2 separate regions of the Homo sapiens genome follow, and region 2 is linked to region 1. The links come from fine-mapping of genetic effects on gene expression. Tissue or cell type: monocytes after R848. Region 1 holds a variant in brackets; the other region holds the start of a gene. All regions are shown on one strand. Distances are between the middles of the regions.

Region 1 (4,884 bases):
TTTATACTAATTTTTGCAACAATTAATAATTTTACTTATTTGATTCCTCCAGGAAATCCTCTTGTCAACCTACCCATCTCAACCTGTTTTTCTCTCCCCACAATGTCTCTAGTTTGGATGCTCTCAAGTCATCTGGCTTTATTTGACCATTCTTTAAAAAATGGCTTGAACTCTCATTTCTCACACTGAAAAAAACCCAGACCTGTTTCTATCTCTGACGGAATAGGGGGTGAGTGTGTCAGTGAGTCTACCTTGCAGCCAATAGTCTACATTAATGATGTGGTTCAGAGCCCAGACACTGGAGCCAGATTGTCTGTGATTAAATCCTGATTCTACCACTTCCTGTGTGACTCCAGTCAGGTTATTTAACCTCTCTGTTCTTCTGTTTTCTCATCTGAAAAATAGAATAATTACTGTGTCTGCCTCTTAGGCTTGTTTCAAGGATTAAATGAGTCAAAACCTTAAGAGATTGTTAGGAGAATTGAATAAGTTAATATATATAAAATACTTAGCAGTGCCTGCCACATAATGAACATTATACAGGTGTTTATTACCATTCTTTCCATAGCTCATTTTTCCATTGTTTGCTGGCTCCTCCCTCCTGCAGCATAATCTGCTGTTGCTGCCACACCTTTTCTGCAGTTTTGCCTCATGGCAGAAACCAGCCTTCTTTCTTCATTCTCTTTTAGGTACTGCACATACAAGGCTATTGTGAGTAACAATAATAGTTAACAATAATAGCTAATGTTGACTACCAGTGTTGACCTTGTACTAAGCACTGTCGTAAGGATGTATTTTACATCTATTGGCTCATTTAGTTCTCATACAAACTCTATGAGATAAACATAGTTCTTATCTCCATTCTACAGAAGAAGAAACTGAGGTACAAAGAGGTTAAATAACTTGCCAAAAGTTTCCCAACTAGTACATGAGATAAAGCCAGGTTTTAAACCATCATTTACTTACCGTTTTCCTGGCATTTGTATGTACAGAGAAGTATCTATTTTTTTTTTCTGGTGAGTGATATCGTTATATTACTCTGCTCACTTGGTGGGTCACATTTTTTGTCAATGCTGAAGAGGATGGGGCACAGAAAGAGGGAGATGGAATCTTTGTATATCATGATGAGCAGAAAGAAATGGCTTAAATATGCTGAACGCCAACTGTGTGCTTGGCATTGTGTGATGCCCTCCATTTATGTTCTCTTAGGGAATTCTCACAACCACACTCATTTATTATTATTGTTACTTTATAGGGGAGGAAACTGAATCTCAGGGAGGTAAGGACTTGCCTCTGGTTAAGATGCTCATGAGTTGTGAGGACAACCTAGAGTATGCACCTAGAGTATCACCCCTAGAGTTTGCATCTCTAGGGCATACTCTTTTCACCATATCATCTTGTATCCCTCGAAGTTAACCCCAAAGCCTTTCTGTTTTCCATGAAAACTCCATGCCCTCAATTAGTTCAAATCAGTAACTTTTTCTTTTGGTAGTCCTTTCCCCACTCTTTTAACCTCTCTGATTTATCTCTTCTTTAAAACTACTTTAACTGACATCCACAAGTATTAAAGTGTCTACAATGTTAAACTTAGGTGGAAGTCGCTACATAGATTAAGGATGTTTATAGAAATTTTTGACTTTATTATTCGAAGGGCCATAAACATGAAGGTAGTAAGTGTCATTAAACTTTATTAATATCCATAACACTTGGTATGATAATATTACAAGATGTTAAGGCACAGTCTCTGCCCTTGAGGTGGTCACCTTGGATAGGAGGAGTGTGTGTGTGTGTGTGTGTGTGTGT[GTGTGTGTGTGTGTC/G]TGTGTGTCTGTGTCTGTGTTGGGGGGTGGTACCATTTCTCAGGAAGTTCTCCATGAAGCATGACTATCAGGACCCTTTCTAAGTCAACTCAAAGCAACCACCTTGTTGAGCTGCTTTGTTTGCTGTTGCAGATTGTTTTGGAAATGTGTTTTAAGTATTTCTGTCAGACAATAAAGACAGTCTGTAGGCTTGAATTGTTTTTGCAAGGCTGATTAGCTTAACTGCCCAACAATTATTATATTCATGTTAATGTCATTGGTGTTGGGATGTTACTGGAGAACTCTGGATTGCCTGTCTTTAAGCCATGTACACTCCCCCATTGGGTTTTTAGAACTTGCTGGTTAGCAATGGTGAGTTTGCCAGAAGCTGATGAATTGTAGTCATTACTTTTACGTTAATGTGCTCTCAAGGTGACTTTCTTTAAGCATTTTGATTACTATGTGGAAAAAAAAGGAGTGTTGAGACAAACTGCTGTGTAACAAATTACTACAAATTTATTGGCTTAAAACCACACCCATTGATTCCCTCATAGTCCTGGAGTTCAGAAGTCTGAGCTGACTTGACTAGGCTGTCTGCTCAGGGTCTCACAAGGCCAGAATCAAAGTGTCATGAGAGATATTGCACATGAGAACTGTTTTGTCCTCTCAGATGTAGATTATATGACTGTTTTAAGGAAAATCAGTATCACATGACTTGATACTCACAGCTGACCATTTAGCTGTAGAGGTTTAAGAGGATGAACATTTTGGTATTCCATCTAATTTGATGCAACTGAGTCTTGGTATTTATTCAGACAACATAATTTCTTCTCTTAACCAGCAGACCATTTTTTTCCTCTGACATTTTAGACATAGAATGGATACATTTAAGTTTGGCTTCAAGCACTGTATTGAGAGTCAGCATATCCAAAATGGACTTTCAGCTCTGCAACTTGTGCAAATGATTTTTCTTTGCCTCCATTTTTTCCCATAAAGATATCAATACTATTTTTTACTCTTTAAGTGTATTTTATTTTGCAAAATGCATGTTCAGAAGACTAGCGGGTAGTCTATAGCTTCTTGATGTTACTCTCTTTCTTCCTAAGCCCATGTTCATTTTAGATCATCACACTGGGAGAAGTATCCTCTTTGTCAGGTGGCTCTGCATGCACTATCCCTTCCTTCCATCAGTCCCTTGGTCACCTGGTGCAATAATGTCATGTAACATTTGTATTGTACTTTACAATTTGTAAAGGGAACACAACCTATTCACTATCATATTTAATTATTTCCAAAATTCTGTGAGGTAGGCATTATTTGTATTTTACAAATGGGATGAATAAGATCCAGAAAATTAAGTGACTTGTTTAAGATCACATAAGAAACAGAGCCAGGCCTGGAACTCAAGTCTTCTGAGTTTCAATCCAGTGTTGTTTCTTCTATACCCCAGATAAGCAATAGGACAAGCTTGTCCAGCCTGTGGCCCACGGGCCTCAGGCAGCCCAGGACAGCTTTCAATGAGGCCCAACACAAATTCGTAAACTTTCCTAAAACGTTTTGAGATTTTTGTTGCAATTTTTATTTTTTAGTTCATCAGCTATCATTAGTGTATTTTGTGTTTGGCCCAAGACAATTCTTCTTCTACTGTGGCCCAGGGAAGCCAAAAGATTGGACACCCCTGCAATAGACAACAGGACTCACAGAAAGAGACAGCAGCACGTAAAATAAATTTCAGGCTTGCGAAATGACTTCAGTTTTTGGTGATTCTCCTTTCTTGCATTTGTTTTGGCTCAATTTTTGACCCTTTTAATTTTTCTTCTTGTTTTCCTAGAATCCAAATTAGCATATTGGCTTTGTTCTCATGACTGTCAATATTTGTCCTGGGCCATGGCCAAGGAGGAAAGTGACAGAGGGCAGAGACTATCTAGTGTCAAAAGCAGTTGCAACAGTTCCACATTGGTCTCAGATGTTTGCAATTCTGTGTTTAGTGTTGTTGCTCACTAACAGCTGAAGTCTGAAAAGGGAAGGCATTTTATTGGAGGAATTTCTCAGGTATAGGCACTTCTCTAAGACCTATGCCTTTGAGATTCTGCAGACTCCCTTCACAATTAGCAGAAAATTTATGCACAAAATTTTCCATACAAATTAAGGAATTTACTCATCCTTAGCACTGTCTCCAAGTCCCATACCAAATTCAATTATTCATGTATTCAATAATTCCAGAAACAGTTAATTGAATAGCAATGTACAATGGTGGATAAGAGGTAAGGCTCTGAAGCCAGCCTGCCTGAGTCGAAATCCAGGCCCTGCCTGGGAGACCTTGGCAAGTAAGGTCTCTCTGTGCTTCATCTATAAAATGGGGAAGATAATAGAGCCTACCGCACAGGGTTGTTATGAGGATTGATGGATTATTAAATGTGAAACACTTGGAACAATGTCTGCCACTGTAGTATGCAAGATTCCTTAAATGCCCCTCAAAGATGTTCTCCCCTAATCCCCAGAACCTGGGAATATGATGAAACATCACTCCCCCTTGTTATGCAGGCACAATTGAGTTAAAATAGGAGATTCTCTGGGTGGGCCCAATCTAATCATACGAGCCCCTTTAAAAGCAGAGTGCTTTCTTCAGGGGCTGGTAGAGGAGGAAGTCCGGGAGTTTCCAAGTGTGAGAAGGACTTGATGTGCCATTGCTGGCTTTGAGGAGAGGGCACCAAGTGAGAAGGAATAGACACCTTCGGAGCTGATAGACACCCCGGCTGACAGCCAGCAAGGAAATGGAGACTCAGTTCTACAGCCTCAAGGAAGTAAATTCAGCTAACAATGCGAATGAGCTTAGAAGTCGATTCTTCTCAGAACCTCCCCATAAGAGCCCAGCTGGCTGACACATTGACTTCAGCCTTGTGAGATTCTGAGCAGAAAATCCAGTCAAGTCTTCTTGGACTTCAGAACTACAGAATGGTGAGATATGACTGTGTGTTGTTTTGAGTCACTAGGCTTGTGGTAATTGGTTATACAGCAATAGAAAAGTAATAAAAGGGCCAGGCACAGCAGCTCACGCCTATAATCCTAGCATTTTGGGAGGCTGAGG
Region 2 (4,884 bases), 900 kb after region 1:
ATAAGGCCTAAAAGGGGCTTTACAAATCAATGTCTTCAAGGCAGGTAACCTCATTTATCTTAGTATTTTCTCCAGACATCAGTAAACTGCTTAATAAATAAAGTATTTATTACACGAGAAAAAATTGTTTAGACAAAAAAAAACTCCTTTGTTTTAAAAGACTTCTTTTATAGTAGTCAAGATATTACCTGAAAGCATAAAACTACTAAATATATGTAAAAGTAAATGTGTAAACTTTCCAAGGGAAGGGATTGAATATCATGTTCAGCATAGTATCAGGAACATGTAAGACATTCAATATTTATGGTGCAAATTAATAAATAGAATGCAATGTACTATACTCAGCTCTGGGATCAGAGAACTAATTTTCAAGGTCAATTCTGCTTGACAGTTACACTTTTTTTGAAGTAAAAACTTGTTCAGAATTTCCAGTCAACTTAGCAAGAACAGTATGAACCTCCCCAAACAAATGGTAAACCAAAACACATTAACGGGAAGTTTGTATTTTACTAATGGTAATGACTATATTCTTCATATTTTTTTCAAGGATGTTCAAGCCATTATTGTCAGTAACTTTCTTACTTAAAGGCCTACTTTAGGTAATTACAAGAAAATTTTAATGTTTTCTATCAAACTCCAACTTTTTAAGAGAAATCAAGATATATTAAATTTATGTACTGCACATTCACTGTGTTTCCAGCGCTCTTATGCACCTAATATTCATTTTTGTAAACATCTGATTCGTTCTGGAGCCACGGGACGACGCACACACTAAGAACAAGTGCACAGAGTGGTCAATTTGGCAAAGGCCTAGAATGCAGGTGCCTAGAAAATAGGGCGGAGCCACTATCAGTTGAAGTGCAACAAAACATATAAGGTACTCTAGGCTTAGAGAGATGGGTTCGCAGACTCTATCAAGTCTGTTTCCCGTCTGCCGGACGAAGGAAAATAAGCGTCCCTGTATGAGCCTACCCTAACTACAAAGAAAATGCTACTGAACTTAGATTCAGATTTTTTTTTCAAAGGCTTCTTATCAAACTGTAAGGAGCAGGAAAGCGAAGGCTCAGGATATCCACAGAGCCCAGGAAGTGAGGTTAACAGAGCGGTACCCAGTGCCAACTTGATGGGGGAAGACCAGACCCAAAGGGCGGGAGTCGAGCCCAAAACCAAGGACGGAAAGAGCATCTCACTTACCGCTCTCCACCTTAAATTTCTCATGCCGCCCCTTCAGGCCATCGATCTCGGATTGCTGATCAGCAAGGAACTTTTCAAGTTTGTTCTGGACAGACTTGGGCAGCTTGTTCAGCTCCGTGCGCTCCAGGACTTGCTGCAACACCGCCGCCATGTCGGTGGGGCCAGGGACCCCAGTGGCAGCGGCCGACGGGGTAGAAGCGGAGAAGAAAGGCGAAGACCAGCAGGACCCAGACGCCTGGGCCGCCGCCTCTATCACCTCGCTCGGTGGCTCGCGCGCGCCCGCCCGCCGGAGACTCCCGCGGCGGGACCCTGGGAAATCGAGTCCACCCTCAGCGGCAGCGTTTCAGCAACAGCACCTCACCGCCCGCGACCGAAGTGCGCGCGCAGCCGTTGGAAGCTACGAACCCTGGGAACCCGAGCTCAGAGGCTATCCCTGATCCTCTTGCGCACCCAATTTTCCGGCTTCCAGCTCCACCCACTTCAGGCCTTGTAGGGCTCTGGGAAATGTAGTGTTTTTCTCATTCTTTTCCGGGAGCCCAATGCTGCACCGCCCTCTCAGCTTCCGTTTTTCTCCCCGCTCCCCTGGCTCTCCTATCTCGGCCCCGTAACCGCTGTCCGCACGGTGGCGCCACATACGTACTCGTCACCCCTTGGCCCTCCCTGAAGAGCTGGTGACCTTACCGTCAAAGCCCCGGGATGCCATGGATCGTCCTCGTTGGCGGCTTCTGGACACTGAGCCACTAGAGGGCATCGGTCCCGGTAGGGCCGGACGGCAGGCTCCGGGATACCGCCACGCTCTCTATGGCGCCCAGAAGGGGGCGGGGTGGCGACCGCAGTCGCTTTGGCTGAGGCTCTGCGGGGAAGGGAGGGGGGGCTTTTACGTCATCAATCTGCGCCACCTGACTCCCAAGTCCCTGGCTTTGGAGTGGGAAGTGAGGTGTGGGAAGTAGGTCGCTTTCTGATGAATTCAGTGGCAGTGAATTGAGACCGGAGGGAATCTGGCCCCTAGAGGCTGGTACTTGGGCCCGAAACCCCCATCTCCGGCGGAGAGACCGTCCGAGGTAATTGTCTGCCACGAGTGCACATTCTGAAAACAGGTAAGTCAGCCTAAGTGTAGTGTGTGTGTGTGTGTGTGTGTGTGTGTGCTCTCTTTTCAAGAGAAAAAGGAAGGGACAGTGTTGGAACCATATGGACAGTCACTCCGGCACACACTTCTGACGAACTTACCTTGTGTGAAACGGCGTACCTAAATGGTTTTTGGTGGTGGGGAGGTGGCACTGAGTGATTCAGTACCCGGGAATTTAAGGACCCGGGTTAATTCTTCAGGAGGAGAATTAAAAGAAACCGGTAGCACTTTGAGTGTAGCCTATGTTTTAAATTTTTCGTTGCAGAAACGGTTACCTAACATTATATTGTTTTTAAAATTGAAAACTGTTGTAACTGAAGTTTTTAAACACATTGTTAATTTCTACAGTAACAGAACTTGTATGGTTCCAGATCATAATTCTGTAGTTTTAAAGCTCAATCCGTAGATTGTTTCGTGTTTACTCTTATGAAAGAATTTGTTAAATTATTCATTGTAAATAATGCATTCCCAGTGTCGTCTCTCTGCAGTTCCCACAGTCGTGGGCCTTCTGTGAATTGGTGATTTAGTTCTTATATGAAATTTATTCTTTTTCTCTAGTTCTTACTTTTGAATCATGTTGTGAAGCCGTCTAAGAAATATAAATGGAAGCATTTTATGATATTTTGTAATAACTAAGGAAAAATAAATCAACAGCGGAGCTTAAGGTTGATTTTTCCCCAAAAATATTTTTTAGATAAGCATTGTAATTAAAGTTGCTGGTATATGAAGTATTATGCTATGTCCTAAGCCCACAGTATTATCATACTGTTGATCTGTCATTTGGGAAATGTAGATTTTTCTGTACTTAGATTCACAGAATCCTAAAATTAGATAGGTTTTCAGATCTGCTAGGATTCAAATGCTTTATTTTATAGATTAGGAAACCAGAGCCCAGAAAGGTTGAGTTGTGTCAGTCACAGTGCTTGGACCACAAAGGCTTTGGCTGATATACAACATTTCTGGAAAATTATGACCCTATAAGGCAAAATACAGTTGTCCCTTGGTATCCGTGGGGCATTGGTTCCAGGACCCTCTCACCTGCCCACCCCATGGATATGAAATCCATGGATGCTCCAGTTCCTTATATTAAATGGTGTAGCATTTGCATATCTTAAATCATCTCTAAGTTACTTATAATACCTAATACAATGTAAATGCTATAGTTGTTATATTATATTGTTTAGGGAATAGTGACAAGAAAAAACATCTTTAATGATACAGATGTAATCATGCTTTAAAAAAATAATTTTTCAATCTGTGGTTGGTTGAATACATGGAAGTGGAAACCACAGATGTGGAAAGCTGACTATATACATTTTTAGTACTGCCTTTTATAAAGTATGGTTGACTACATTTAAAAATTTTGAAAGAGCACTAAAGAAAAATTTATCTGACATTCAATCAGATTTCATAATTGAATAGATTTTCATCTCCCTATTACATTCAGTTTCTTACACATTAATATGGCTACTAGGTGACACCCTAGAAGAAATAAGGTTAAAAGGTTAAATATAACTTTAGAATTACTTGTATTTGTTGCAAGAATTAAGAATTATTAGACCAGAAGGAAAAGGAGTATAATATGATATAGAGGAAAGTAGATACATAGAATTGCATACCTTAAGGCATTACTAAAAGGTAAAAGCCCTTAACTTCACAGAGGCAACAGTGATATTTAGACAAGCATTCCTAGACTTAGTCTCTAAAAAATGATATGCAAATCTGATTCACGTCTATTGTTGTCAAAAAAGAGCTAGGAAGGCCAGGCATGGTGACTCACACCTGTAATCCCAGCACTTTGGGAGGCCAAGGCAGGCAGATCACACGGTCAGGAGATCGAGACTATCCTGGCTAACACGGTGAAACCCCGTCTCTACTAAAAATACAAAAAATTAGCCGAGTGTGGTGGCGGGTGCCTGTAGTCCCAGCTACTTGGGAGGCTGAGGCAGGAGAATGGCGTGAACCTGGGAGGTGGAGCTTGCATTGAGCCGAGATCGCGCCACTGCACTCCAGCCTGGGCAACAGAGCAAGACTCCATCTCAAAAAACAAAAAAAAAAAAGAGCCAGGAAGAAATTAATGTATTTTGAGACAAAACTGAACAAGCTCATTGAAACAATAAGGAAACAGCCTCCAGTAGGACATTTCAGACTTGAATCCATTCTCTGGGCTTTAGTTTTAAAATGCAAAACCGTTTTGTGACTGACAGTTTACTGGTATCAGATATACCACCCCAGCATATCTCTGGTAGCCTTAACTTTGTGGTACTGAATAAGATTCACATTTTTAACAGAATCCAAATGATGATGATTCCTAAATTGCAGTGTTCAAAATACTGTAACTGTGTTCCTGCAGTCTCTGTTTGTTTTATAGCTCTTTTGGATATCATCTCTTTTACATTTTCATCCTCACTGATTATGAACTCCTTGATTTAATCATTCATTATATTGCCTAGCTCTTTTATTCAATATCTTTGGTTTTAAGCTATAGAAATGCAAATCAAAGGAGCATAAGCCAATAGAGGGAATGAATATACTGACTTCCATCCACAGACCAGAGGGAAAAC

Which allele goes with the higher level. Alleles are on the strand shown, and positions count from the first base shown. SD is a standard deviation of normalised expression in the study named.
With allele G in place of GTGTGTGTGTGTGTC in region 1, the expression in monocytes after R848 of the gene that starts at base 2,155 in region 2 is higher (large effect, 1.6 SD a copy in Quach 2016).

The links. PIP is the estimated chance that this variant, and not a neighbour inherited with it, causes the effect.
Region 2: it holds the start of ODR4, and the variant in region 1 is fine-mapped to the expression of ODR4 in monocytes after R848 (Quach 2016, PIP 0.95).

The regions. Positions count from the first base shown.
Region 1 is chr1:185,474,325-185,479,208 of GRCh38, forward strand. It overlaps LOC107985239 (a long non-coding RNA gene), which reads left to right and starts at 3,689. Exons shown (of 3, transcript XR_001738340.2): 1 at 3,689-4,754. The variant GTGTGTGTGTGTGTC/G (reference allele first, on the strand shown) is at 1,804.
Region 2 is chr1:186,373,684-186,378,567 of GRCh38, forward strand. It overlaps ODR4 (odr-4 GPCR localization factor homolog), which reads left to right and starts at 2,155. Exons shown (of 14, transcript NM_017847.6): 1 at 2,155-2,291. It overlaps TPR (translocated promoter region, nuclear basket protein), which reads right to left and starts at 1,570. Exons shown (of 51, transcript NM_003292.3): 1 at 1,195-1,570. The coding sequence starts at 1,345. RefSeq lists a silencer at 705-754 and enhancers at 1,315-1,614, 1,775-1,824, 1,995-2,184.